4 linked regions of the Homo sapiens genome follow. The protein of the gene in region 1 interacts with the protein of each later gene in a pairwise test. Each region holds a gene or a part of one and is shown in the gene's direction. Other genes may lie near its edges. The genes, in order: MPDZ, PELI2, SSTR3 and PLEKHA1.

Region 1 (7,023 bases):
TGAAATATTTTGAGGCAAAGTTGGACTGGAATGTCCCCAAATATGGTAGAGCAAATAGCACATCTGCCAGAGAAAGATCCTACACTTTAAAGAGAAGAAGCAGACAACTTCCTGGTGAATTTAGGACTGCTTGATGGTGCGTATGAGTGATGATATATGTCCAAAACAGTTGTATGTACTTTTGAAAATAGATATTTGGCCTAAAGTAGGATTTCATTTGATATTGTTACGTACATTATCAACCCCATATTTATAACAATAAAGGTTTCATTTTTTCTTGTAAATTAGTGTCATGCATAGGAGAGCATTTATATAAGTACAGTTCGGAAATGATATTTAGCATGGTAAAATTGATATACTGTGATTAAATAATTTTAGTGGGATTCCATGTGGGAGAATAAGACTAAGGAGGTAAATAACTACTTCTCGATAAAGGAAACCAGTGGTGAGGAATCCATTGCCTTCCTGTGATACGTTTCCAGAGAAGATCCGAGGTATTCATGTAGTAGGTAGTAATAGATGGATTAGGAAGAATGTTGTATTGGGTTAGGCATTGGGGAGAGTACAGAATAAACATGATTCTGCTCCAGAAGTGTAGGGTCTTAGTTGGAGGAATCTAATGGGAGAAATAACAGAAAGGTTTTACATGTTAAAAATGTTACAGGGATTCTAGGAAAGTAGTGAAGTATAGGGATTAGTTGCTCTTATCATTGAGGTTAGTAAATAAGACACAGAAAGGCTTTGGTCTTGAGATGAGAGGGTGGAAATGAAAGTTTTTTTGATATGAAGTAGAGCTTAAGTCAGTGGTTTTCCCTTGAAAATGGACATGTATAGAAGAGGCTGGGATGTGAGTGGGCAGTGGGTACTGGAGAGCATATTCAATTTGTATATTTCTGGAGTGGAATAGAGGATTTGTGCCCAGGGGAAAAGGTTGGATAGGGAAGAGCAATTAATGGAGAGCAATGAAGTATAGGCTGACTTTTATCTCTTGAAGTTTCCACTTTCCAATAACCCAAGTCACATTTCCTTCTGAGAGTTAACCTCTTCAGTGCAATCTGGGCTTTTTCTAACATGCACCCTAAAACGTTTGTAGCCATTACCTATTACCCAGTTCCAAAGCCACTTCCACATTTTTGGTGTTTGTTACAGCAGCACCCCATTTCCTGGTACCAAAATCTGTATTAGTTTGATAGGGCTGCCTTGACAAAATAACACAGAGTGGGTGGCTGAAACCACAGGAATTTATTTCCTCACAGTTCTGGAGGCTGGAAGTCTAAAATCAAAGTGTTGGTGGGATTGGTTTCTACCAAGCCTCGCTCTTTGGCTTGTAGATGGCTGAGTTCTCCCTGTTTCTTCACATGCCCTCCCTCTGTGTATGTCTATAGCCTAATTTTTTATAAGGGAACCAGTCATATTGTGTTAGAGCCCACCCCTAGTGACCTCATTTAACCTTTATCTCCAAATACAGTTATATTGTGAGGTACAGGGATTAGGATTTCCTGTGAATTTTTAGGAGACACAGTTTAGCTCATAACAAGGTTCTCAAAGAGACTTAGTGTGTAAACTAGTGAGACTCTGAGGCAGTGAGCTCGTATTGGAGGCTAGTGCATAGTCTGAGCATTACTGGGGTAATTTGATGTTTGGCAAGAAAGGGAAGCTGCTATTTGAGGACAAAGGTATTTTATCTTTGGCCTGAGGCCACTTATTTTCTTTCTCTGGATGTTCATTGGGAAATTGTGCCTCTGTGGCCTTTTTGTGGACAGAGCATTAATTTTTTTTTTAAGTGTTTTATAAAAGCATTCGTTTTCTTAAAATATTTCTTTTAATGGTTCTTAAAAATAGTAAAGCGCTAAATTTGGCAAAGCTGAAACACTGTGTTGTAAATGTCTCAGTGGTTTTTGAGTCTGATTAAAACAACAGAATTTATTCTTTAAATTCCATTGATCTAAAAACTGTCTGTCTTATACGTGTTTTGTGGGGTAATGTATGGCATAATCTTTTTTCCTTCAGAAATGTTTCCCCCTTTTGGGAAAATATGATTAATAAAAGGGAATTTATGTTACATAAAATAAAAACTTTTTTTTTTTTTTGTTTTTTAGGTGTTGCAATTTTATTTGTTGAGTTAATGAAACCATTAGAGCCATTCTTCCCAATCTGGCCAGCTAAGTTAAAAATAAATAAATAAATAAAAGGAGACAAACTCTTACTTTTTTTCTTCTGGCCTGTCTGCCTGTGGTGGTTAAATTTGTTTTGTTTAGGGAATTCTTATCTTTATCCACTTTTTAGTTTTATTTGTGTCTGCAAAAGCAACATTCATTGTTATTTTCTTGTAAACCACTCTGCCTCCAGATCCAAGGTGCTATAAATAAGTGCATGAGGGGAAAGTGAAAAATGAAACATTTATTAAAAAAGAAGAAAAAAAACCCAGTAACATCAACTACCAAAAAAAAAAATTAAGAAAAAACTTAATGTTGTTGCTTATGTTTTAAAATTATTTTGATAATAAAATACATAAGGTAATTATTTATTTTAGTAAATAGCACATTTTAAAAGGTATGGAAGATACAAGTGAAAAGAAGACGGAAAGCTTGCCTGTAATTAGATCACCCAGATACCACTCCCACAAGAAAATCCCCAAGACACATATTTTGAAAATGAAGATATTTAAGTTATTTTGATATAACAAATGGATAGAGCAGCTGTTGATCAATAGATTTCACCAATTGCTGCCTTTCTAAATGAGCATCATCTGATCTGAGATTATTAAATGTTATATAATTTGAGTTGATACTAATAGCATTTGTTTGAACTGATGTCTCAGGTCTTTTGAAGAGATATGATACAGTTCACTACCACGTGGCATGTAGGATACCAGTGGAGAACGTATTTTAAAAAATTTTGATTTCTGCTTAAAATTAAGTGTTAATAGTCAATGTTTATACTGATTATATGTTGAAATAATAATTTGAAGAAAGTGGGTTAAATAAAATATATTATTAAAATTAATTTCACCTACTTCTGCTTTTTTCTTTACTGTGGCTACAGACAAAATTACATATGTGGCTCACATGATATTTCCATTGGCCAGAGCTGATCTAGAATGATGCAGATCATCCCCTCTCCAACTCTTGGTGTGTTTGATAATCTGAATTGTAACATATACAGAATGGCAATTATTTGAATAATTTCAGCACCAAATTACTCCTTTGTTAACCAATTCACTATATTGTTAATTTCACAGTAACTTTATATTGTGTACTCAGGTGGCTCCATAGGATACCTTGCTTCAGGGAACTGTCATAGAAAATGGTCATGAGAAGCTATCCTTCTGTGTTCATAAGATATCACTAACGTAACAAAACCATGATGATAGAGTCATAAAGATTAAAGATTATTCTACAATTTAAAAACTCCTTTCCGATATATTTAAGATATGTCCAGTTTCTCTTATACCTTGCTAGGCCCCTGTTTTAGTTCATTTCGGGTGCTATAACAAAATATCAAACACTGGGTCCCTTATAAACATACATTTATTTCTCATAGTTCTGGAGGCTGGGAAGTACCAGATCAAGGCACTGGCAGATTCTGTGAATGGTGAGGGCCTCATAGATGATGCCGTGTTGCTGTGTCTTCATATGGTATGGAAGGGGCAAGGCTGCTCTCTGGTACCTATTTTATAAGGGCACTAATCCCATTCATTAGAACTCTGCCCTTGTGATCTAATTGCCTCCCAAAGACCCCACCCCCTAATACCATTACTTTGGGGGTTAGGATGTCAACATATGAATTTGGGGGGAATATAAACATTCAGACCATAGCAGCCCCCTTAATAGGTCTTGCTTTGTCTAAGGCATTACTGGGTAAATTTCATAAAGCTTATGTATTTCCTCCTCGGCTTCTCACTCCCCACAAGTGTCCCAGGGTATTGCATTTTAATAAGTCAGGCCTGAATCCACTTCTGGACAGCATTCATTTTCTTTTGTTCTTCTTTTTTTTTTTTTTTTTTTTTAGTAGGAACAGAGTTTCACCATGTTAGCCTGGCTGGTCTTGAACGCCTGACCTCAGGTCAGGTGATCTCCCCGCCTCAGCCTCCAAAAGTGTTGGGATTACAGGAGTGAGCCACCACGCTCGGCCTCATTTTCTAATTTGGGATTACAGGGGCCTCATCGATATGATTCAGTGGAGTGTTGTCTGACCCTTCCAACCCTTTCCCATCACATTCACAGTTTTCTGGGCTAGGAAATGCAGTTATCCTATGCTGTTTTACAAAACTATAGCATTGGAATGGCTCTTCATTCTGATTTAATCTATTGAATATATATCGGGTTAGACTAAGTCACAAAGTATTTTTAGCTCTTTGGCTGAGGGAGGAAAATGAGAAGAAATAGCCCTGGGGCCTGGGTTATTGCTCCCTAGCTAGCTTCATTAAGATGTTCAGTGAACATCTGTTGGATGCTAAAGTCAACCTATTCAGCCCCTATCCTTTTCTCAAGGAGGTGGGAGGGAGTGTTTAACTGTTTTATTGTGGTATAAGTTATAATTGTTTAACTGTTTTATTGTGGTATAAGTCATAATTGACAATAAACTACACATATTGAGAGTGTACAATTTGTTGAATTTTGGCTGTTTTGAAGCTATCCCCCACAATCAAGATAGTGAACATATCCATCACCCCCGAAAGTTTCCTCATGCATCTTGGTAGTCCTTTCCTCTACCCACCCCTCCCATCTCCAAGTAAACTACTCATTTGCTTTATGTCACTGTAGATTAGTTTGCGTTCTCTAGAGCTTTAAATACATGGAATCATACAGTATGTTCTCTTTTGTCTGACTTCTTTCACTATGTGATTATTTTGGGATTCATCCATGTTGCCTGTATTCATAGTTCAGTACTGGTCATTGCTGAGTAGTAGTCATTGCATGGATATACCATTAAAGAGTTTTTAAGTCATTTAGAACTCTCCTGCACTTCCGTTGTCTTATGGTGCGTATTCATTCTTGGTTTTGTGAGGGAGGAAAAATTTTACTCTTTGAGGTTCTATAAGTGAGGCCTGTGAATTAAAACTAACAGAACACAGATTAACATTTAATTGATGTTTTTAATTTCATATTCATGGGGGCTACGCAGAAAAGAAGAGACCCAAAGAAGAGGATAGATTTGGGGTTTTTGCATCATTTTCATGATAAAAGTTGTTCTCACTGGTAAGGGAGAGATGATCATCTTTACAAACGGACATTTCTGTCACATTTACAAAGGGAATTTTGTGTTCTACTTTTACACAGAAAGGGCCAGGGGAGAGAGTGCTCCTGTCTTCCGTTTCCTATTTGCCTTCAGTTCAAAATAATACTGATGCCAAAGTAGCATATTTTGGAGTGGCATGTTCTGATCCCCTTTGGATTCAACTGTGTGAGTCCGACTTTTGTATTTGATGGTGTTTCTCAGTCTTCTTAAATTCATGCCCCATTTTGATAAACATAACATAGAAAATTTAAAGGCCCTTATTTAAATGTTGGAGCTACAAAATATGTAAGTCAATAGTTTAAAAAATACTACCGGTAATTGTAAAAAAGATTTAAAAATATTTAATTTTGAAAGATAGGAGATGATTAAGTAAAAAGTCAGGAGATTATTGAGGCTTTCCATAAACTTTTGTATCCTACCGTATGAAGAGTTTAAGCACAGCACAGTAGTTTCAGTATTGAACCCAATGCTTTATTTTGACTGCTTGCTAAATATTCCTCACCCACTTGCATGTTTTCTGTAATTCTTACCATGTTTGATAGATCTGTCACTCCTGTGACAAATGTATATGACAGTCATATAGTGAATTGGATAACAAAGGAGTAATTTGGTGCTGAAATTATTCAAATAATTGCCATTCTGTATATGTTACAATTCAGATCATCAAACACCCCAAGAGTTGGAGAGGGGAAGATCTGCATCATTCTAGATCAGCTCTGGCCAATGGAAATATCATGTGAGCCACATATGTAATTTTAAGTTGTCTGTAGCCACAGTGAAGAAAAAAGCAGAAGTAGGTGAAATTAATTTTAATAATATATTTTGTTTAACCCAGTTTCTTCAAATTATTCTTTCAAAATATAATCAGTGTAAACATTGTTGAGATATTTTACTTTCTTAAAAAAAAAAAAAAGCTCTCCAAAATATGCCATGTCTTTTACCCATGTCTTTTATCATATTGCCTTTAGAACTAGCCAAGGTGTAAGTGCCCAGTAGTGTGTTTCAGTGTGGCTCCTGGCTACTGTGTTGGTCAACACAGCTTTAGCTCATGCAGCTAAGCTATAAGGTCAGATGAAATCAAGAAATAAGATGTCTTCATTCTGTTATGAAAACCTGTTATGTTGGCTGGAACCACTCAGCCTTTTTTGGGTCATTTGTAATGTTTATATATTGTCTGTACCTTCTGATCACTTAATTGAAGTGACGAACAAAATAAATAAAACAACATTTAAAGCAGATGTCCTTTCTGGATTATTACGAAAGTAAAAGTTGGTTTGTGCTCTTAATATTAATGTTTAGTCTTTTGAGTGCCAGAGTAAAAAGCAGTTAATGGAGGCATTTAAATAGTAGATGAGTTAATTAAGAAGCAAATAGTCACGTTCATTGAAAGAATAAGCCCTTTTAAAATGCTTTCATGGAGAAAATATCACTTGTCAAGATAACCCCAATGAATCCTATAGAATTACATATGGTAACTAAATAGTGTAGCTTGTTACATTATCTGTGAATTAGTAATTAGGAGATCGAATTGCTGCATGCTTATTTATCTTATATGGCTAAGGTACGTGTTCAGATAGGTTCATAGTAATTTGGATTTCTTCATGCAATTTTCCCTTATCTGAACTACCTGGAATCTTGCCAGCAAGATGTAAATTGTCATTTCTTGCTGAATTTTCTTAGTGTATTCTCAGCAGTGTGGACTACCAATGACTGACAAGCTTATCAGCGGATTTAGACAGTAACATCTCTTTGCTGGCAGAGGACTACAGGGTTCTCTCTAGG
Region 2 (7,023 bases), on another chromosome or scaffold:
CAGTATTATTAAGAGATTCCACATAGCTAGGATTTTAGTGAGCTCATCACTTTCTGGGCTGATTAGTGGAATTTAATTATTTCATGATTCCAGCCAGTTAATGTATCATAGCCACAACTCTTTGTTGTGTCCACTACTTAACTGAAGGTAGAGAAAAATGACTGGTCTAACCAGCAGGTCTTTTTGCTATAATTTTAAACTTACGTTTTAAGGTTAGGGAAGTGGCTCAGGATTTGAGAGGCAGTTTGGTATAGTGGGAAGAACATGCATTTACAGGTGGGTGACCTGAATAAGCCCTTCTCTCTTGCTGACTGGCTCTGTGACTTTGGCTTAATTCCTCCTCCTCCTCTCTGTTTCTTTATCAATTTGCAAAATATGATTGGATTAGGTAGGCTTCAAGAGCCCTTCCTGGTCTGTGCTCAGTAATTCTGTTCATTGGCGCAAATGTAGAAACTATTTAGTTACATATTCTAAGTTCCCTGACAGTTGTTTTAATAGCAGAAAAGATCAATGCTGTGGTTGTTTTTTATGAAGATGTGCGTAAAAACAGAATGTTTAAAAAAGTTGTAATGATATACATCTGTTTGACTCATTGGTGTTAGGTTACCCATGGGAGCATTTAAATTGTGTAAAACTTTATGTTCCAAGTTTAAGAAAGACAGTGATGTTTTGAAATTTAGCTAAATAGACTGAAATAACCAGCATAAAGAGGAGATGATCTCATGATAAAAATTTAGAACTGAATAGCATTAGGGGAAATTCCTAATGTAGATGATGGGTTGATGGGTGCAGCAAACCACTATGGCACGTATGTACCTATGTAACAAACCTGCACATTCTGCACATGTATTCCAGCCTTAAAGTATAATAAAAAAAAATTAGGACTGGAAGGGGGCCTAATGGTCATGGTATATGTTTAGCCCTTATATTTTATTCTTGAGGACACAGGCTCCCAGAACAAGAGAGGTTCAAGTTCATAGTTGATCTGGGCTGAGCTGGGTGGCTGTACTCCCCTACTCTACCCTTTCCTCACTTTAAGACAGATTCCAGCAGCGCTGTCAGTTCCTCAAAGCATCCTTTCTGGATTCAATTTGAAGCATGTGGCTCTCTTGCTGACTAATGGCCCATGGTGGTTTTTGGAAAAATATTGCTTACTCTCTTAGTTCCTCTCACCTCACAGTTGAATGGATAATGCATTTTGCAAGACTTTTTTTTTTTCTTTTGATGCTTCACAAAATGTATTTTTATTGGCTCTCTCAACCAAGGGTTCTTAACCTAGGGTCCACAGATGGAGTTCGGGACATTCTTGAACTTAGATGGGGGAAAAACATGTCTTGATTTTCATGATATTCAAACTGCAGTTTAGCATTTTCATTCACTTATGAGTGTAGGCAACAAAAAGACTTGCTGCTAGATTTTGTTATTTAATGCATTATTACAGAAGTGCACATGTGTATAGCAATTTAAGACTTTTGATATTTAAGTATAAGTGATTCCAATTGTAATCCTTTGTATTTTATTTTGTATGTTTAAAAACATTAGTCTGAGAAGGGCTCATTACATGTCATCAAACTGCCAAAGGGATTCTTGGCACAAAAAGAGGGTAAGAACCTCTACAAATGAAAATTTATAAATATGACTAAATATGACTGAAAAATGAAGTATTTTAGTAGAAATTGATAAGCTCTACAAAAGGAGGTAGATACCTGCCTCATTTCCTTTGGATGATTCAGTGTTTTGTTAGGTAAGACAAAGAGGGGTATAGTAGCTTGTAGAGTTTATGGTCTTTTTTTTTTTTTTAAAAGCAGGTCCCACTTTCTGTATGCTTTTTGTTGTTGCTGTAACCTCAGCACTTTGCCTTGACTACTCCACCCTTTGGTGGCAATAAGAAACCTTCAAATATACCCTAACACTTTTCCTTTTCTCATCCTCCACTCTAATTTGGGCCCAAAGACATCAAACATTAGTATCTTTTATAGACTAAAAGGTCTTTGAACTTTAAAAAAATTTATAAAACAAAATCTTTACTGTAGCTCAGCATGTGGGGTGATCTGAAGAGCTCAGATCTGTTTGTGTGGATGGAGTGTCTAATTCTGTGGGCTATTAAGGGTTACGGTGTTACTGGCTTTGAGTTGCTATATTTTCCTTTACTAACTTTAGCCTTGTTTGGAATATGTGGCTGTCTGTGTTGCTGTGTGGTTTCTGGTCTGGCTTTCTCAGATTTATTTATTTCTCTCTTTAACACACCAAGACTGAAAGCTTCATTAGGTCTTTTCATTTCTGGTTGTGTTTCATCCTGTGATCAATATTTGGGGATGCTGTGTATAAATGAAAGTAAAACAGGCTTGATTCAGGTTCAGTAATTTTACCAAACATTTTATCGAAAAGATAAAATACTTATGCACAAAGGACCAAAACAAAACAAAATAGCCGTTGCTATATTTGAGGAAGACCAATATTGTCACATTGGAGCACTGGTTTTATATCTGCTGTGCAGGGCTTGCAGTGTGGCCTTCCTGAAAGTAGGTATATGGGGTTGTAGGTTGGCTTTTGAATGGAGACAACAGCAACTTGGTAGACCTCATTGGTATGGGAGAAAAATAACTGTGAAAAGGAATTTATAATGTCTTTTGATTTAATTAAACGTTTCTCCTGGGGTGTGCAGAAATCTATTTTATAAAAAGAAAAGTAAAGGTTAGAATAATTCAGTTATTAGTTCTTACTGAGCTTATTGTCACCTTCATCTTCTGGAAAATAAAATAATAAGAGCAGAAAGTGCTTCATATTTCTTAGCTTTGTCTAAATCACCTGTTCTCAACCACTGTCTCAAGTACCTCATATGTGATGATCAGTCTTGAGGGTATGTGGCCAGTAATTTATGACAAGTAATAAAGTGTGGATCTTTCAAATGATTCAGATATGTCATGTTAATAATGTCATTTTTCACCCTTTTGCATTCTGATGTGTTTTCTCAAGTGGGAGAGAAAGGGGTGGAGTTACATCAGGCAAGCCAGGAATGTATGCATTCAGCAAATATTTATTGGCTGTCTACTCTTCCAGGCATGAGGAATACAGCTAGGACAAGGCAGACACATTCCTTTTCCTGGTGAACTGCTCTCTTATTTTTGTCCCAGCCTCTTTGTGAATAACCGTTACTGATACATGGTTCATTTATTTATTCCCCAAATATTTGAGCATCTGCCACTTGTCAGATGCTGTGGATTGCACTAAGGGATACGCAGATGAACAAGACAGTCATGGTCCCTGCTGCTGCAGCACTGACAGCCTAGCTGGAAGACCTGAAGGCTGGGATGGTGGATGTGTTAGCAGGGTCCCCTAGCCATGTGCCAGGATGAGATGGGGATGACCACGATGGAGATAAGAGGGAAGGAGTGCTTTCCGAAGAAGGTTTGGAGTATTCTGCAACCTAGAGATGAAAACGTGCAGCTACTTTGAGGAACAGAGAAACACTCTTTATGGCTAGGAAAGAATGATTGAATGAAACATTGTGAGGGATGATGATGGGGGGATATCATGAAGGGCTTATAAGATATTGGAAGGGGTTTGGACTTTACCCTAAGAGCACAGGAGACTGTCTCAGGGTTTTGCTAGTATGAGATGGGAGTGAAGAAAGCCCTCTGCTCTTTGCAGAGTGGAGTTGGAAGGCACAGTGGAGTTGGAAGGAGAAACTGAGGCTGCAGCCCAACAAGGCAGAGAGAGAATGGAGTGTGAGCTAGAGGGCAGCTGTCTTGCTTCTAGTTCCTGGTTCGGGTACCTCCTGAGACCTAGTTTCGTGTGATTGACCATTCATTCAGTGACTCAAGATACTGACTGAGGACCAGCACTGCTCCCAGCCCTGGGCTACACCAGCAAACAAGACAGACAGCTGCCCTTCCTGCCTGCTTGGAGCTTACCTTTTTTTGAGAGAGGTGAGCAAGCAAAGGAGTAGATAAAAAATGGAACTTCAGAGACTGCTGGGAGGAAACTAAAGCAGGATAAGGAGGAAGAGAGTTATTGGGTGGGCAGGGGGGGGGTGAATTGGCAGGGTGAAATGCTAGGGATAAGGTAGTGGGGGATCCTTTTGGACAAAATAATCAGGAAAAGCTTTTCCGAGAAAATAGTCCTGTGTCCTTTGAGAGTCCCCACTTCTTTCGGTTTTTACTTACTTTTTTTTCTGTTTAAGCCACCTTGAGTGGGTTCTGCTCTTTCAATCAGAAGATTCCAAGTATCCCGTTAAGAGGCAACGTATATAAGCAATTTACTGAAGGGAAAAATAGAAGTGTAAACAAATACAAGGGCAGATAGTTAAGTATCCCTGGACAAAAACGTGGTTCTGCCCTCTGTGCTGCTTGCCATGTGCCCAGAGTGGCCATTGAATTCCACCAGAGCGTATTGCCCCTTGAGGGTAGGAACCTTGACTTCCCCCCTCCTTGGAATGCTGGGCTTCCCTTTCTGGTGCATGTTAGGTACTCACTGAGCCTCTTGGAGAAATGGATTTCTGTGGCACACCCTAGTTTGCCACCCCACATGGAGATGTGGCCAGGGCTTAGTGAATGTTTCTGGACTTGGAAGGAGCACTCTGCTTCTGTAGCACAACTGCAGTTTTGTAAACAATCCTACCAACCTTTAGGGCCCAAGTCAAAGTTTCCCTGAGAAACTAAACATGTGCTTTACTGACATCAGATATTCCAGTTTCAACTTTTGTTTGTTTTTCTTTTTGTCAGTCACCTAGCAGTCATGTTGTCACCTGCAGAAAGTCCTGCCTTGAAGGGAAGCAGGCCATCTGTTCTGATTCCACCAGCTGCTCGGAGCTGCATTGCAGTGCGCCACAGTGGCGTTGAAAGGCTGTGGTCATTAATGCCTATTAATGATGGCTGGAAATACTGTGGCATACAAGCCTCTTGGATGACAGACCTAATAAATATGCATCAGGGGGCATTTTCAGCAGCAGGTTTAAGGCTATTGCGAGTCATTCTCGATTGAGGTTTTCTTTCTAGCCATCCGCATAATGCTTCTCACTCTCAAACACTTCACTCTGCTTATCCCTGCTTTTCTGCTCATGCAGAATCTGTTTTTAGGATAAGAAATCATTGTTTCAAGCTTTGTACTTCCATTCTTATTAGTACTGGTTTAACAGAATTTAACCAGAGCGAGCAGTTGTGTGTTTGGCTTCTAGGCTATTGGTATAAAACGGCTGATCGTGATTACCAAGTGCCTCGGAGGACCTCGGTGGCCCCCCTCCTTTCCCATCTTGTGCTTCCTGCTCCATGATTATAGAACACTAATTATAATCAGAACTGGTGATGGGTGAGCAATTAGGCTTTTCTGGACTGATGATTGATTGATGGATTGATTGATTGATTGCGTTGGGGAAAGGCCCTTCCTGCGGAAGGATTGTAGACACAAAGGAGTGTGCTTTCACACCAGATCCCAGAAAATTATGCTGACTAGATCCTTGATGTAGTACATAAGATTACATTATGGTTTGGGTACTTTCATCACATGCTGTGGATAGAATTCAAAATGCAACCTGACAAGACTGATAGGAAATAAATTCATTAAGTTTTTATTGAGTTGTTTTTTGTCTCCTCGGGTTGTTGATCATTCTAGTGAGCACAATTTCAGCCTTTTTGATGAGTTATTCCAAACATTAAGTACTGTACGGTTTGAAAATCTTAGCTAACAAAAGCATTTTTGGAGTGGCTTTATAATTTATAAGTCATCTGCAAGTCTTTTTGCATTTGTTAATCTCCAATATTATCTGAAATTTGTTGAGAGCGTGGCAGTTGAAGAATAGCCTAGCTTACTGAGAACCATGCTTCTGGCAGACTGGAACATAAGCAGCTTTCACCCAGGAGAGCTAATGCATGACACAGATTTTCAAGCTTTTAAAGGTCACCTGACATGAAATAACAGAACTAACAGAGATTCGAGTAGGTGGGGTAATCTATACAAGCATCCTGCAGGTACAGGATGGTGGAAGGACCAGAAGAATGTTTTAACACTGCATTTGGGTGGTTAAAGGACAGGATGAAGAGCTCATTTATATTGGTTGTACCTGTCTGTGACTGTCGGCAGTAAGAAGGTAGTACAGTTCCTGAAATACTTTATGTCTCCTCCACACCATGGAGAACAGTTCTGTGTTGGTGAGAAGCAAGCCAAGGCAGAAGATGGCTCTTGTGTGGTGCAGTTTACAAAAGAGAGACAAAATTTGATAGCAGCCACTGCTGCCAGCCACCTGCACAGCACTCAGGGTTGGGAGAGCTACAGGCCTAGAATCCACTGGTTACTGCCTCCAGATTGAACACTTTGCCATAGAAAGAAAATGAAAACATTCCTCTAGTAGCTAAAGTGAACGTAACTTCTGAAATTTCCCCAGATTCTGTTTGGGGAATTTTAGCATTTTTCATTTCTAATGAGAGGGACTAAAAGATGTGAAATCAAAACTTTTGCATTCAAAATTGATCAACTGAGTGTAAAAGAAATTTAAATAATTGAACTTCCAGATGATGTTAAGTCTGTTGCTTTTATAATTTTGTTGTTTTTAAAGCTTAAAATTACACTAAGAATTTTGAGATGCATGTGTGTATGTATATATTTTATTGCATGTGTGTTCTGCATGGGTATATTAAAAATGGGATTCATTGATCCTGCACATGGACCCCTGAACTTTAAGATGAAGAAAAAAAAATGGGATTGCCTGTACATACTAGGAATTAAGCACTATCTAAACATACACACTAAACACTGATCATTCAGTTTGTGTTAGGTGATGCTGTTGTTGCTGTTTTACGAGGCTGATTTCACTTCAGAGGACTAGGGGTGGTGGAGCCTACATAAGGAAATGCCCCCCAGGGGTACACAGTCTAAGGGCAAGACAGATGACTTAGCAACAAATCATTAATTAGGGTGTAGCGGGATGGTGGGCGAGAGCTCTGGGCATACTATATGCCAGGTTCCGTTAGGTGGTTTACATTATCCTTTCCAGGAGTTCAAATTTATTATCTGGGCAATGAGGCTCCA
Region 3 (7,401 bases), on another chromosome or scaffold:
TGCACTCCAGCTTGGGTGACAGAGCAAGACCCTGTCTCAAAAACAAAACAAAACAAAACAAAAAAACCCCAAGGCCCCCATAAAATGAGAGAGTAAAACATCAAAAAGGAAGACATGGAATCTAAGGAACTGGATTCATACAGGAAAAAGCTGAAGGGAATCCCCAAACAACAATGGAGAGAGAATCTCGGGATGTCAGCTGCGCACAGGCCCAAGGGGCAGCTGGCCCAGATAAGAGGAGCTCGTCAGTCTCCAGGACGAAATCGTCCCTGAGGCTGGACTCTGGAAACTCCACTGTGTGGTTTTTACGAAGCTATAGGAACGTGTGGAAATGCTTAGTCCAAGAAATCGAAGATATTTTTAAAAACCAAAAAACGAAGCAATTATGAACTCCTGGCTGAGCAGGAAATAATATTTACATTGCATTAATCATGGGAACACTGGATATGCATTTAACCGAAACTCATATTGAGAAGATGGGGAGAAGGGGTGAGAGTGCGTAAGAAATGTAAACTTCTCCTGTACTGTAAGAGGAGTCAGTAGATAATGGGTAAAATTGAGGGATTAAGACATAAAAAAATCAATATGATATTTAGCGAGAAAGAGCTTAACTGAGGGAGCAATTGCCGAGCGGGTGGGATTACCTGTGGGATGGGGGGGTGGGAGGGATGGGGGAGGACTGCTGTTTTTTGCTGTTACAAACCTTTTCAGCGCTACAGTAGTCCACTTAGCGCAGTTTCAGTTACCTGTGGTCAACCACAGTCTAAAAATATTAATAGATTTTGAAAGAAAAAGAGACAGAGAGGTCACCATCATATAACTTCTGTTATGATATATTGTTATATTGTTTTATTGTATATTGTATTATTAATTATTGCTGTTCGTCTCTTAACTGTGCCTAATTTATAAGTTAAACATTATCTTTCTCCACCATCGTGGTGTGTGGTTGACTCCGTTTCTCGCCACAGCTTCTCACAAGACTTTCAGGATCAAGTGATTCCTGCACAAGAAACAAAAGCAAAATTGTCCCATTCCCCAGTGGATCTGTATGAAAACTGGTAATAACATCAGGTACAGCTCCAAAAGGAGATATTGGAAAGAACCAAGCTGGGTCTATAAGGAATTGAGCATGAGATGCTACACATATTCATGTTGTATCAAGGTTGTGATCATATTACCATAGCAAGCTGAAAATGTCACCACTATCTGGACAGCTGGACATGTTTGATTGGGAAGGTACTTTTTCTCTTTGTTCATATGCTCTGCACTAGTAGGCTGGGTTCAGTAATACATAGGTGAGATCTTTTATTTAAAAAAAAGTTATCAGCCTGTAATCCCTGCTACTCGGGAGGCTGAGGCAGGAGAATCGCTTGAACCTGGGAGGTGGAGGTTGCAGTGAGCCAAGATCGCACCACTGCATTCCAGTCCGGGCAACAGCGCGAGACTCCGTCTCAAAAAAAAGAAAAAAATTATCAGGCTGGGCGAGGTGGCTCATGCCTATAATCCCAGTACTTTGAGAAGCTGAGGTGGGAGGATTGCTTGAGGCCTGGAGTTTGAGGCTAGCTTGGCCAACATAGGGAGACCCTGTTTCTTTTAAAAAAAAAATTACCATGGGTATGTAAAACATCATACAGGAAAAAATAATAGCATATATATACAGGTTCACTATAATCCACGGATTCAGGCATCCACTCAGGGTATTGGGATGTATGCACCGAGGCATAAGGGGCATAAAGCGGGGACTATTCTACTGGTTTCTAAATTTACTTGCAAACAGTACTTTGATAAAATAAAAGCAAATTAAAAAATCATTGCATTACAGATAAGGAATCCTGAAGGAGGGAGTGTTGGAGAAGGGGAGGGCTCTGGAGAAGGCTGCCAGAGCAGGGGATGCCTAACCAGGCTGAAGGTGAAGAGGGGGACCCGGAGTGGCCTGCTAGGGACTCGCGGCACCGGTGAGTTTCAGATGGAGGCCCTGGTGCTTTAGAACGAGAAGAGGGCCGAGTGGCGGAAGCGCAGGCTGAGGCTCGTTACATGGGGTCCCTAGGCCGCGGTCGGGACTGTGGATTTTATTTGACGAGGAACAGGTGGCCATAGGAGGTTCTCAAGGAGGCAGCTGGGATGACTTATGTTTGTAATGGACTCACTCTCTCTGCTGAGTAGGGGGCGAGGGTGGAAGCAGGGGAGTACAAGGTGATGGTGGGGTGGAGGAGGAAAAACCCTTCTTTACTGTCTTAGGGTCTCTGGCTGGGCTGAAGAATTAAACTGACATAAGGCAGATCAGCAGGAGAAAAACATACAGATTTCATTTACATGTACAAGGGAGCCCCCCCGCCTCCCGCCCAAATGACCAAGACCCAAAGAAGTGACTAGGCATAAAGGCTTTTGTACCAGGTTGAACATAGAATGGCAATTGTGTAACTAGGAAGATAAGGATTAAAAGATCTGTTCATACAGATTTCTTTTGGCCTCGACTCTCCTTATCTGGTAATGTCTTTCCTCCTCCTGGCATAGGGAGGGCGTCTTTCACAAGGCGTTTTAGCTCCTGCTTTCAGGAAGAAAAGGGGAGGTCAGAGCCCCCTTTCTGCACCTGCTGTTTCTGAAGTGCCTTTAGTGCAGAGAAATCAATATGCCAGAGTGGTGTATTCTGGGGTGGCGTGTCCTGAACCCCTTCAGTGGCCTGGCTCAGACGGGAGCCTGTGGATGGAGAGCAGTGGACGGGTTCCAGGCTGGAGCAGTAAGGCTCGGTGCTGGGGAGGTGTGTGGCAGGGGGCACACTGATGAGCATTCACTCCTTTAACCTTCGCAAGAACCCCCAGGCCAGGCAGTCAGGTGTGTACAATCTACTGAAGGAGAAAACCGAAGTTTAAGTTCAGTGCACGGCAGGGGTAGAGCTGGGGCTCAAACTCCCCTGTCCAGTCTTCAGCCCCTATACCCCAACCTGCAGGAATAAGTGAATGAATACATGAGGCTGGGTACGCCTGGGGCACAGAGGAGCGAGTGAAATCAGCAGAGGAGGAGGCCCGCGCAGGCGGCAGGAATCAAGGATGCAGTGCCAGGTGGGCTGCGGCGAGAGAGCTTTATTCTGAGGGCAGTGAGAAGCCGTGGGTAGGGGTGGGTGGTCAGTGCCATGGAAAACCCACCCTTGACCCTGAGGACACGCTCCCAGGAGCCCACCCACACCTCATGAACTTGTACGGACAAGGACAATGGGAGGCTGAGACCTGGAGCAAGGGCCTTGTCCCGGGCACAAGGCAAAGGGACGGGCAGCGTTAAGAGACCAGGCCGGCTCCGGCTGGAAGTGGGTGTGTCCTACTGTGTGCTGCCGCATGCATGGTGGCACCTCTGGATGCATTCAACTTCCAGTTCTCTGCAGTGCCAGGTACCTAGTGACAAAGGAGGTCCAGCCCTGGTCCCAGGGAATGGCCCAGTTTGGAAAGCAGCCTAGGTACAGCCTGGCACATAGTAGGTGCTCAGCCAAGACGTGTGTCCTTTTCCCTTCCGTCTCTGACTGTTCCTTTCCTTATCACTCCTGTGCTGAGGCAGGAATCAGCACAGGCAGGGGCACGGCATCCCAAGACATCTGGGCCTGTGCTCAGGACTGTACGGCAGAGTCTCTTAGACCAAAGATCAGTAAATATGGCCCACGGGGCAAATCCCACCCACTGCCTGTTTTTGTACAGCCTAGGAGCTGAGAATGGTTTTTACGGATGAACATTTGCAATCGGTTTGATGAAACACTAACTCTAAACTCCAATTAAGCAAAAGGTGATGTCTGTAAAAAGAACTCTATTCTTCTCATGAGTGGACCTACATTACAAAATACTGGCCTCAATTATTATTATTCTATTTTGAGTTTTGTCAGTTACAAAATAGTAAAAATCTGTTTTCTCACTGCACAATGATTTTGCCCTCAAAGCCTAAAATATTGGTTCTCTGTTCTGTCCTTCCACTCCTCACCCTGCCTGGGGCTCTCCAGATGTAACCAATCCCAGGACTAATGACCCCCACCCGGCCTCCCCAGTGGTCCGTGCTGCGGCCGGTGTGCCCGACTGCAGGGCTGGACTGTGGACTCCCGGGCTGGCCAGCCCCACACCCAGCCTTGCCTTGGGACACAGCTGCTGCCCCGGGGGACCTGTGCCGCAGTGGCCTCACGAGCTGCTCTGGCTACTGGCTGGCAGCCTCGGCTCCCCTGAGCACTGAGCACATTCTTCTCTCCAACTCCCTGCAGGAGCCAAGGCCAGCGGGCGTGGGTGGCTGAAATCTCCCCGGTAACAGGGTCTGCGCCCCTCCTGCTCCCTCTCCGGGCCTCCTCCCTTAACCTGCACCCCGCCCCCACCCCCCACACCTGCTCTCCGGCCCTCAGCCCCTCCCTGCTTACTCCCTCCTTCACGGGCTCCATGTCACCATCTGTGGCACAGTCCCTCTCTGTCACTCTCCCTGCCACCCCCTCATTCTCCTTCCTCCCTCCTGCCTCTCTCTGCATCTCTCCCTCTCACCCGTGTCTCCTCTCCTCTCTTTCCTTCTCGTCTTCTCCCTGTCACGCATCTCTCATCACTCCCCCTCATTCTGCCTTTCCTCCTACTCACGGTCTCCTCTCCCTCTCCCTCTCTCTCTCTCCCCCTCCCTCTTTCTCTCTCTCTCTCTTTCTCCACCTCCTCCCGACCCCCTTTCCCCTCTATTTCTATTGGCTTCTGTGTCCCTTGCTCCCCTCTTCTCTTCCTCACCCTGGGAAGCTTCTCCCCCCTATCCTTGCCCCTGCCCCCCCAGGATGTGTCCTGGAGATGGGGGGTGACGTACCAGGCTCTGGTTGGGAAGTCAGGGCCGGAGACCAGATGGGAGAGGCTCTGTGGACAGCCGTGGCCGAGGGCCTGGGAGGGAACCTGAGCCCGCAAGCGGTCTAGAAGTGGGTGCCTTGTGGGGACCCTAGTTAGGAGTGCCCTGGGGGCACCTGGGGACTGGGCAGGGAGAGGGGACAGCAGAATGATAACCAGCCTGGCGGCAAGGAGGGAAGCCCTCACCCCATGGGCAGGTAAGGAGGCTGGGGCCCGGATGATGTCCCGAAGGGTGGGGTCCTGGAAGCCCATCCTCTGCCCAGGATGAACTTGGGAGGCTGGGGCTGGGGAGGCAGAGGGTGGGGACTCCCAGGGAGGCAGGAGGGAGGCCTTCCTGTGACCTCCCGGTCGGCTGCAGGGGCAGGGGCGTTAGTCTCAGAATCTCGTGCCATGATTCTAGGATCTCGGAATCACAGAATCGCAGGCTGTCAGGGCTGGAGGGAGCCAGATGTATCATGTCGTTGGCTTCCCCAGCTCACGTGGCAGCTCTCCTGAGCTCCCCCTCCATACCCGGCACTGTGCTTGGCACGCCTCCGTTTAATCTCTGCAAACAACCCTGGGAGGTGGGTCCGCTTGTCTTCCATATGACGAAACTGAGGTGCAGCGGGGAGAAGTGACTTGCCCGAGGTCACACAGCAATTTGGCATCATCGCTGTGCAGCAGAGCCCAAGCCCCCAGCGCTGGGCCTGTAGGGTGTGCTCCTGGGATCAGGCCCCAGGCCTGGGGTGCCAGTGAGTCAGTCGGCACTGGCAAGCATAAGCCAGGTGTCTTTGGGGGGAAGGCCGAAGCATGTAGAGGACAAGCAGAGAGCCAGGGGCCATCGCCCTGCACTATTCAGGACTGTCATGGCCTTTGATCCTTCTCAGCCTGAGGCCTTCAGAGGAGCCAGTGTGGCCAGGAGGTACTGATGGTTTAGAAGTAGATAGAACTGGGTTCGAATTCTGGCTTCCCACTCTCCAGCTGGGTGACCCTTTGCAGCTTACTCAACCTCTCTGAGCCTCAACTTCTTCCTCTCTAAAAACTCTCCCTCTTGGGCTTCTTGAGGATCTCATGATGTGAGTCTGAGGCTTCCATCCGGGGACAATGTCCCACCTTGGAGCTCTCCTTGTTGAACGGCTTGGCTGTTCACATTTATGGCTGTTCTGGGTGATGTCCTAGGTTCTGGGGTTAAGAAATAAATCATTCAGGGCCCCTGCCTTCAAGAGCCAGTGTTCTAGCGGGTGGGAGATGGGCAAATGGAGAATGATTGGGGTGCCTGGCCTCCCTGAACTGTTAGGGCTGTGCGGCTCAGGACAGCCACTCACCCTCTCTGTGCTGTCTCCTCCTGAACAGTCCTCCAAGGAGTCCGCCCCCAGCTTTCAGGCAAGCTTGTGCCAAAGATAAACCAGACAGGGAGGAAAAGTCCCTCCTTCTCAAGGATGAACTAGATCATGCACAGGATTCCAGCTCTAAAGAAAAGACGGCACCTCAATTGCAGGTCTGGCTTACGTGCGTGGAAAGCTGTAATTTCCCTGCTTCTGCTGCCTGGGCCCCTCAAACTTTGACAGGGAAGACCGGCTGAGATAAGGGTGGAGACAGGGTTTTCCAGGAGGGGGCCAGGGGTTCTGGGAGGGGCGACTGCATGCCCTGGTACAAAGGAGGGTCTGGCTAGGCACGCCGTGTTCCTGCCAGGACCATGTGTGTGTCAGCGCATGCGCTTGTGGGTGCACAGACATGTGCTGGGCAGGCGTGGGGGTGGGGCAACCTCAGAGCTTACCCCCAGCGGGCTACCCCAGGGGCATATGTCCCTGAAGCCTGGAAATTAGGCCTGCCCAGCTCCTTGCTTCTCTCAGGAGCCTGGTGCTCCCCTCCCTCATCTAGCCCTGGCTTGTGATTGGCTGACCAGCAGGGATGCTATAAAGAGGATCTGTGCACAGCACAGGGCAGCAAGGTGGATGGTGACGCGGGTCCCCTACCAGGGAGGCAGGACTCTAAGGTTCCAGGTTGCACAATTCCAGGTCTAAGAAGGACTCATTCTAGCATTCTGGAATTCTAACATTCTCTGATTCAAGGATACTGAGTCTAAAATCCTATGGCTGTAAGATTCTCTGCCTGTTCTAAGAATTCAAAATTCTATTTTTAGATCTCTAAGGTCCATTAGGCTTTGAGTCCATGATCCTCATAGCTCAAAGCCCTGGGGGCAACTGGGAAAGCGGATGCCAGCTGGGCACTCAGGTGGGTGCCTTCCCAGGCCTGGCTTCAGTTTGCCAGCCTGTGGAATGGGCGTAGAGGTGGTCACTACAGATCTTTCCAGATTTGCCCCTTCCTAGCTGTGACCAGAACATGTGACCTCACGTTTGCTCCCCATCTGTGCAGTGGGGATGACAGTAGTGCCTCCCTCGTAGGACATCATAGGATACTGCAGCTCACCAGCTTAGCCTGGCACCTGGCACAGTCAGGGCTCAGTGATGAGCAGCTGGCAGCACTGTTAGGATCCTCTAGCCCACTGTCCAGGTGCCCCTCCCTTAGTGCTGCTGTCCCAGGCTCAGGAGACCTGATGAAGGGTTGGGGAGAAGGATGGGTTGAG
Region 4 (7,851 bases), on another chromosome or scaffold:
TCAGCCTCCTGAGTAGCTGGGATTACAGGTGCCCGCCACCACACCCAGCTAATTTTTATATTTTTAGTAGAGATGGGGTTTCATCATATTGGCCAGGCTGGTCTTGAACTCCTGACCTTGTGATCCGCCTGCATCTCGCTCTCAAAGTGCTGGAATTACAGGCGTGAGCCACTGTGCCCTGTCTGGTAAGGGGAAGGGGTCTGAGGGTACAATTCCCCCAGGCCAAGGAGCTTGTGAAGCCCAAGATGGACTTGTTCCCAGATCCTCTCTCCCAGCTTTGTTTGCAAGGAGTCTTCACCTTCTAGAATGCTCCCTACTTCAGTGCTGCAATTAGCAACCCAAGTGTGGCCCTGGATGATCATCTTGATTCAGAAAATCTTGTTTTTCAAGTTTTCACACCACATTGGAGCAAGAGTCCGTATGTTTGGATGACAGCAAGCATCCTGTGCTCTGCAATTTTAGGGTTTACCACCATCCCAGGCCTGCCACATGTGGTCAGGGTAATTAATGTATGACCTAACTAGGGTGTAGATGCAGCTGGAACCCACCAGACCCCCAGAGATCATAGGGTTGCTGGGGACCTTTAGAACTCCAGTGGCTTTCAGCAACTTTAGATCCTGTCCAACCCAGATGTTCAGTGTTGGGCTCCCTTCCTTGTCTGATAATCCTAAGGCAGGAAAGACCTAGTTCTGCTCTCTACAAGTCTTGGAGGCAAGCATCTCCCCGGATGCCCAGTTTTTTGTTTTTTGTTTTTTGTTTTTTTTCCTGTGTGGGCCTGGAATTTGGGCTGGTTGCTGACTTTTTCAGAAATCCTATTCTTCCACCTTGGTAAGCATAAAATGTGGACAATCTTTCGTGGCACCTTCCTGAAGGAGGATTGTTCTGCCCCAGCCCTGGGATGCAAGAATTAGCTCCAGAAGGAGACTCCAGTCACCTGATTGGTAATCTGGGAAGGTCACTTAATCTGTGCCTGCTTGGGGTGATTACTGAGAATCATGCTTCCCCTCACTTGGTCATTGCCAGTTGTGAGGCAGGGTCAGAAAGCCAGCTCCGACTCTTCACCCACAGAAGCAACTCCACTGACTCGCTGCCTGGAGTTCTTGTGCCATTTTTACACTAAAAAATAGGGAAAAGCCGTTTTTAACTCTCTGCTACCCAGTTTCTGGAGGGGACACAAAAAGAACAAAGCCGGGTTCAGAGAGTGTTCAGTTCATGTTTAATTCTTGTTCTATCTTGGTTCTGATTTCTGGTTAGAACAGAGGTTTGCTTCTGGAGGTACTCCTTCTGCTTGGCTTCTGATGCTGGCTCTGTCCATAAAGGGGACTGTGGCATTCATCATTCAACACATACTTCTGTTGTAGGCACTAAGGATACAAGCAGGAACAAAACATAAAATCCCTGGCCACGTGGAGGTTACAGTTTAGAGGGATATGCAGAAAAAAAAATATATATGCACATATATAATATGTACAAAAGTGACCATTGCTAAGGGGAAAAAGATAATGCAGGAAATGCTGCAGACATCAAATATTAGAGAGGTGACTAGCATTCAGGAGCTTTCTGCGTGCCTCTGTACGCTGCTTTTTGTGTTGTCAGAGGGGCTGACGTCTGTCTGGAAGCCCCAGAGCCCAGCACTAAGCATATGGAAGGGGCCCAAGAGCTATTTTTGAATGAAACATCAACGTACTTCACACGTGCAAAGCATGATGATAATGATGACAGTGATACTTTAAAGGTAAACTGCAGGCTGGGGCAGTGGCTCACACCTGTAATCCCAGAACTTTGGGAGGCTGAGGAGGGGGGTAGATCACTTGAGGTCAGGAGTTCGAGATCAGCCTGACCAACATGGAGAAACCCTGACTCTACTAAAAATACAAAAATTAGCCTGTCATGGTGGCAGGCACCTGTAATCCCAGCTACTTGGGAGGCTGAGGCAGGAGAATCACTTGAATTCAGAGGCAGCGGTTGCAGTGAGCTGGGATTGTGCCACCACACTCCAGCCTGGGCGACAGAGCGAGACTCTGTCCCTTCCGGCAGAAAAAAAAAAAAAAGTAAACAGCTAAACTATAGATCCTTGAATTCAGACTCCTCCTTTTTCTTCAGATGAAAAGTAGCCATGGAATATTCCAGCATTCCTCAGTGCCTTCAGTGAGTCCTGAGTGTTCTTGGTTTGCTCCCAGACTGTAATTTCCCTGTACTATTTTTTTTTTAAATAGCACTGAAAGCACTGTTATGTAATAAACCTCTGCATCCAAAAAAAAAGAGGCTGGAAGAAAAGCAGAGAGCTTTTTTTTTTTGTCTCTGTATTTATTGGCTGATCGGGAGCTATGAAGTTCTGGTTATACTGCAACCTCAAAGCAGTCCTGGGATTATCTTGTTGTGTGTCCTTGGGCAAACTGAGTTACTTTTCTGGCTTTCTTTACTGTATGTAAATATGGCTCTCAATGATAAACAGTTTTGGGGACTTGTTATGCAAAAAGAACAAAGGAGCAATTTTTTTTTCTTGAGTCCCGTTCTGTCCCCCAGGCTGGAGTAGAGTGGCACGATCTCAGCTCACTGCAACCTCCATCACGTGGGTTCAGTTGATTCTCCTGCCTCAGCCTCCCGAGTAGCTGGGACTACAGGTGCCCACCACCATGCCTGGCTAAGTAGAGGGGGTTTCACCATGTTGGCCAGGCTGGTCTCAAACTCCTGACCTCAAGTGATCCGCCCACCTTGGCCTCCCAAAGTGCTGGGATTACAAGCAGGAGCCATCACATTGGCCAAAGGAACAATTTCAAACCACTCATCAATGATGTCAAACAACATTTAGGAGAGAGATCCGGCGGGTCCAGCCTGGAGAGGGTGAGAGGCTCTTGGCCTAAGTGTTCTATTCTCAGGACCAGTATTTTCAGATCAAATAAAAGATGTGAATTTGACTTTGAATTTCAAATAAACAAATTTCCCATCTGGAATCTTCTAGGATTCTAGCACTGACAAGCTAGAGACTCCTTCCAGACCTTCTAGCCAGGGAAGGCAAACTCAAATGCCTACAGGGATAAGACAGGTGACACCTAGATTTTTATTTTTAAATGTTAACCACACATTCAGTTAAATCAACAAAAACCCACTGTGTGGACCAAAGGAAACAATCTGCTCTGGCTACTTTATAAACTATAGTGAGGCCAAACCCTTTCAACCATTATACAGATGAGGACCCCAAAAGGGACAGATGTCAGCAAGGCTGCATAGCTAAGGTTTCTCAAAAGATAACCAAAATATCACGTTGGATGAAAGGCAATTGAAAATGCTAAGTCTCAAAGAGGCAGTCAGAGAGCCGTTCTATGCAGTTTGCAAGATGTTTTCACCTCCATCAATTTATCAGACTCTGAGAACATTCTGCAAGGCAGGCAGGGTGGATGACACTCATTTACAGTCGAGGTCACTGAGGGTCAGAAGGGCAAAGTGTCACTCTCTGCATAAAGTCACATAGGTAAGTCTACACAGGAAAATCTAGGGCTGTTCTTCACTACACCTCTGATTCAGATAACAGGTAGGCTTCCTCTAAGATTTTAATAAAGACAAACTCAAAATCCTGTATGATGCCCCATGAAGAGAAACAAGTCAGGAGGCCAGGCTGAGCCCCCAGACTTCTAACCCAGTTCGCAAATAAAGAAAGTGGCAAAGTAGATAGATTCCAGCCTGTCACCAGGGTTGTGTCTTCTGTCCTAGCAGCTGTACAGCTTGTCTTACCACTGGACATTTGTTTCATGTACATTTTCACATAGGAAGGATATTCTAAAAGATGTTGATAAAGATTTTTTAAAGGGTTTGAAGGGGATAGGATGTGATCTAAGGTTGTGCAAGGAGAGGAAAGGAAGAAGCACACAAAAAGAACAAATATTTATTAAGAGCCTAGAGTGGCATGCGCTGTGAAAGGCGTGGCATGTAATTCTTTCCCAGTTCTTTGCCTGTCTGAATATTTCTCATTCTTCAGGTTTCAGCTCAGATATCACATCCTCAGAGAACTTGCCTTGCCACTCTCTCTGAAGAGCCTCCCCCCGTCCCCGCCACCGCTACTGTCTCTTGAACTTTCTCAGTCTGGCCATTCTATTAAAATCTGGAACGATTTTGCTAGTTTGCGGACGAGTTTCCCCCAAGCTGCAGGCTCCATAAGGGCAGTGACAGTGTCTCTTTCTCAGATGAATGCCGGGTTGCCTATCGCGTACTTGGCACACAGTTAAGTGCTCGAGAAATTGCTAAACACTCAACGAATATTTACCAGAATACATATTTATGCTCCACCGTTGCTGAAAGAATTTCGACTAACCCTTCTTTAAGTCTCTCTTACCCTCCTGTACTATTAACACCATTGTAAGTAGGCAGTGGAGCTACATTTGCAGGGAGAGAGAAGAGCGAAAAATTGGCGCGCAGAGCTGTAAAGCGTTTTTCTCCAGGTCACACCGCAGCCTGTAAATTTGTGACACTTGGACCGATTATGGGACAGCTTGCAAACAAATTATCTGCAAACTAACGAAGCCTATTTTTAAAGATCCCTGTTCCTCGCAGCTCTAGGCGATGACATCAGAGAACCCGGAGTTCTACCTCCGAGCCAAGCCCAGTGGTGGTCAAAAACTACGAATACCAGGAAGCACCGCGGCGCGGCGGCCCAGAGCTCCGCGCGCAGGCCTCCCCGGCGCGCCGAGGCCGCCGCCGCTGGAACCAGGAAGACGCCAGAAACTCGGCCCGCCACGCCGCAGGGACCCGCGCGGGGCCTGCCGGGACTCGTAGTCTCTGCGGGCTGGGAGCGCCCGCTCCGGAATCTCAGCCGCCGTCTGAGGGCTGAGGCAGCGTGGGGACGCGTGCGCAGTGCGCGGGCTGGCCGTCGCGGACGCCGCTCCGGGCAGCCGAGCCTCTGTGGGAGCCGGGGCCGCGGCGGCGCGGGTGCTCCGGGCCGAGGCCGCGGTAAAGTTTAGCTTGAAGAACGCGGCCGCGCTGGAGCAGGGGTGGTGGACGGGGCCAGGCGCGAGGTGGCGGCGGCTGCGGGGCTGCCGGGCTGCTGGAGCGCGGTTCCCGCTGTGGCGAGCGGGGAGGCGTCCGCAGAGGGGCGGTGGGTGCTGGTGAGTGCGGAGCCGGCGCCCCCTCTGCGCACGTCCGCGCCACGCGCCACAGCACCTGGAGGCCGCCGGGCCGGCTCACCTGCCCTGGCTTGGGGCAGCGGGAGGGGGCGGCGTCTTCTTCCCGTGGGTCCCCGATTGTTTTCCCGACGTCAGCCCTCAGCGGCGCCCGGCGGGGGAGGGCGGGAGGCCCGCGGCGGTCGCGGGGCCGACGAGCTCCTCGGCGTCTCCGCCCCCCGAGAAATCCCGCTCGGGGCGCGGTGCGCGCAGCTGCCCGGGGATTCCCGGTGGCGCCGGTCGGAGCGCCTCCCTCCAGGGCTGTGCCCGCGGGGCGCGCGTCCCCGGGCATCCTTTCCTGGTGTTTAATGCATTTTGGCTTCAGGACTTGCCGAGGCCGAAGCCGGCTCCGCCCTGGGCCCTGAAGTCGGGCGGTGTCCGCGATTTACCTCCGCACCTTCGGGGCAGGTGGCCAGAGGCAGCGTTGAAAGCGACTTGCCCAAGGTCACGCAGGTGGCACCGGGGAGGCGACCAGACCCAGGTCTTTCGACGCCGAGGCCAGCTGCCAACCGCAGAGCTTTGGGGCCGTCTTGAGTGGTTTGTGGTTTGTTTCAGATGCTTTCTATTGACCTCCTGGAAAGAGGGGAAAGTGTGTCATAATGAAAGCGGTCCTGTTGCTTATAGTGTTTACCGCCTTTGGTAGAATTCTGGTGAGGCTGTGCCCCCGCGCAGAGCATCTACCGTGGTCTGGGCGTATAAATAATGAAACTCCTTTGCTCTCTGGGGGCAGTACAAGAAGAGGTTCAAGGAACAAATAAATATCCAGGCAGTTTCTGCGTTTTCCTCGTCTGTTTGTTTCACCTTCCAATTCTGCAGTACTGGTTTTCTTATTTTACAATTGATCGTTGTTTTAATAAGATTTTCTTTGTTTTAATGAAGTCATTGCCCCTTGTGAGTTAGTTTTCTAAATAGAAAATCTTATTTCCTGTGTGTTTAATGACTGGAACAAATAGTGCACTATGAGGTTTACACCATTGTCTTTCATCTTAGAACTCCTGATCAATCTGCTTTATTTTCCCAAGTACTCAGCTTGCATACTTTCTATGTTAATTTGATGCCACTGAAACCATTTACAGCAAAGTTTGGGTAAGAGTTATGTGATTGTTTTGTGAAACTGTGTTTTTCTTCACAATCTGAAGAACTTGAAGACCCGTTATATTAAAATAATAAGATTTATTCTGATCAAAATACCTGTTTACTTTTCATGCTCTTAATTTTTCCTGTTGACACACTTGTGGCAAAAGAAATATTTCCCCTAGTGGAGTTAAAGTATTTTTTATCTTGGCCAATTTTCCCAAGGAAAATTGCATTTTAGAGTACTGATACATTTAAAAAAGAGTATTTAAGTTTGACAGAATTTGAATTAATAAAGTAGTTAATTTATTTTATACTGCCGTAAACCTTACACTGTATCTACTGACAGTTTTCTCTTGTAGCGTATACCTGTATCAAGATATATGGCTGTGAATTTAGTGACATTAAGAAGATATATATATATATATATATATATATATATATAATATAAATATATGTGTATACACACCGCGCGGGCGCGCGCAGAGCTTCCAATCTTTATCTTGTTAATTAGTATTTTCATTGTCGCTTTGGGAGGGGGGAAAGTAGCAGGTTTGTATCTTTTTTTCTCCCCAGTTTTAGCAGTGTAACAAAATAGGAAAGATGGTGTGTAAAATTGAGTTTGTCATAGACTAGGAGAGACAGTGAAACAGGATAAGTATACAATTGTGAGGAAACTGCCATGAGTTCATAAGCCGGAAGGACCTTTTTAGAAGTGTTTAAGGATGTTAAGAATAGCATTGGATTCTTTTCTTTAAAAGTCATTCAAGTATCGTTTGCTAACATATAGGATATGACAATATTGACCACTCCTAGGAAGATACTTGGGAAAGGTGGAAACATTTTACATTTTTATGGGGACTTCCCCCCACAAAAAACATTTAATGGAGATTTAAACAAAGTGGCTTTTTGACTTAAGCCTGGAAGTTCTTTATTATTATTAGTCATGCTGCAAATCCCGAAGTTATTTTAATTGTGTGATAATTTGTAACCCAGAATGAAATCTAATAAATAGTTTATTAATATAATTTAAGTCATACTTTGACATTGACATATTGCTTGATGTCAAGTCATTATTGTTTAAATAACTTATTTGAGAATGGGGAAGATAGTTTTCTGAATATAGTGTAGTAATTATTTGTGACAATAGTAACATTGCTTTTATTAGAAAATTTTGGGTTGATATAACTAACTGCCTTAAAGTATTTCCTATTTGATTCCAACTGTGAGCTGAGGTAATATGCAAATAATTACTTTTCTCATGCTGGAGCAGTTTACTTTTGTTAATATTAAAATTTAAATTTCAAGATTAAAAAATCTTGTTTTAGATCTGCAATGATACAATAAAATGACTTCAATAGGAGTTAAATATTAAGATTTGGTTTTAGGTTTTTTGACCATTTGTGAGTACACATCCAGCATTTAAGAATTTATTGACATGGTGTCTGAAAGGAATGCTTTCAGAAAGGGCAGAAAACTTGGTAGCTTTAGATGATTGTTTATAATGCTTAATTATTTTTAGAAACATAAAAATATGGGATGTTTTTATGTAAACATAAAGCATCCTGTTATTTGTTATAGCACTAGAACTCTCTTACACTTACTGAGCAATATTAAACCATTT

The links.
Region 2: the proteins of MPDZ (region 1) and PELI2 interact in a two-hybrid assay, tested with the Homo sapiens proteins (one study listed by BioGRID).
Region 3: the proteins of MPDZ (region 1) and SSTR3 interact in binary tests that used the Homo sapiens proteins (3 or more experiments, as listed by UniProt).
Region 4: the proteins of MPDZ (region 1) and PLEKHA1 interact in binary tests that used the Homo sapiens proteins (3 or more experiments, as listed by UniProt).

Annotation. Positions count from the first base shown.
Region 1 is NC_000009.12:13,269,687-13,276,709, reverse strand, and holds part of MPDZ (multiple PDZ domain protein), read left to right. Parts: exon of another isoform or gene 1-136; intron 137-7,023. UniProt on the Homo sapiens protein: Member of the NMDAR signaling complex that may play a role in control of AMPAR potentiation and synaptic plasticity in excitatory synapses. Promotes clustering of HT2RC at the cell surface.
Region 2 is NC_000014.9:56,121,392-56,128,414, forward strand, and holds part of PELI2 (E3 ubiquitin-protein ligase pellino homolog 2), read left to right. Parts: intron 1-7,023. UniProt on the Homo sapiens protein: E3 ubiquitin ligase catalyzing the covalent attachment of ubiquitin moieties onto substrate proteins. Involved in the TLR and IL-1 signaling pathways via interaction with the complex containing IRAK kinases and TRAF6.
Region 3 is NC_000022.11:37,209,456-37,216,856, reverse strand, and holds the start of SSTR3 (somatostatin receptor type 3), read left to right. Parts: upstream 1-4,379; 5' UTR 4,380-5,032; intron 5,033-6,167; exon of another isoform or gene 6,168-6,312; intron 6,313-7,401.
Region 4 is NC_000010.11:122,369,863-122,377,713, forward strand, and holds the start of PLEKHA1 (pleckstrin homology domain-containing family A member 1), read left to right. Parts: upstream 1-4,845; 5' UTR 4,846-4,944; exon of another isoform or gene 4,945-5,099; intron 5,100-5,478; exon of another isoform or gene 5,479-5,697; intron 5,698-5,715; exon of another isoform or gene 5,716-6,239; intron 6,240-7,851. UniProt on the Homo sapiens protein: Binds specifically to phosphatidylinositol 3,4-diphosphate (PtdIns3,4P2), but not to other phosphoinositides. May recruit other proteins to the plasma membrane.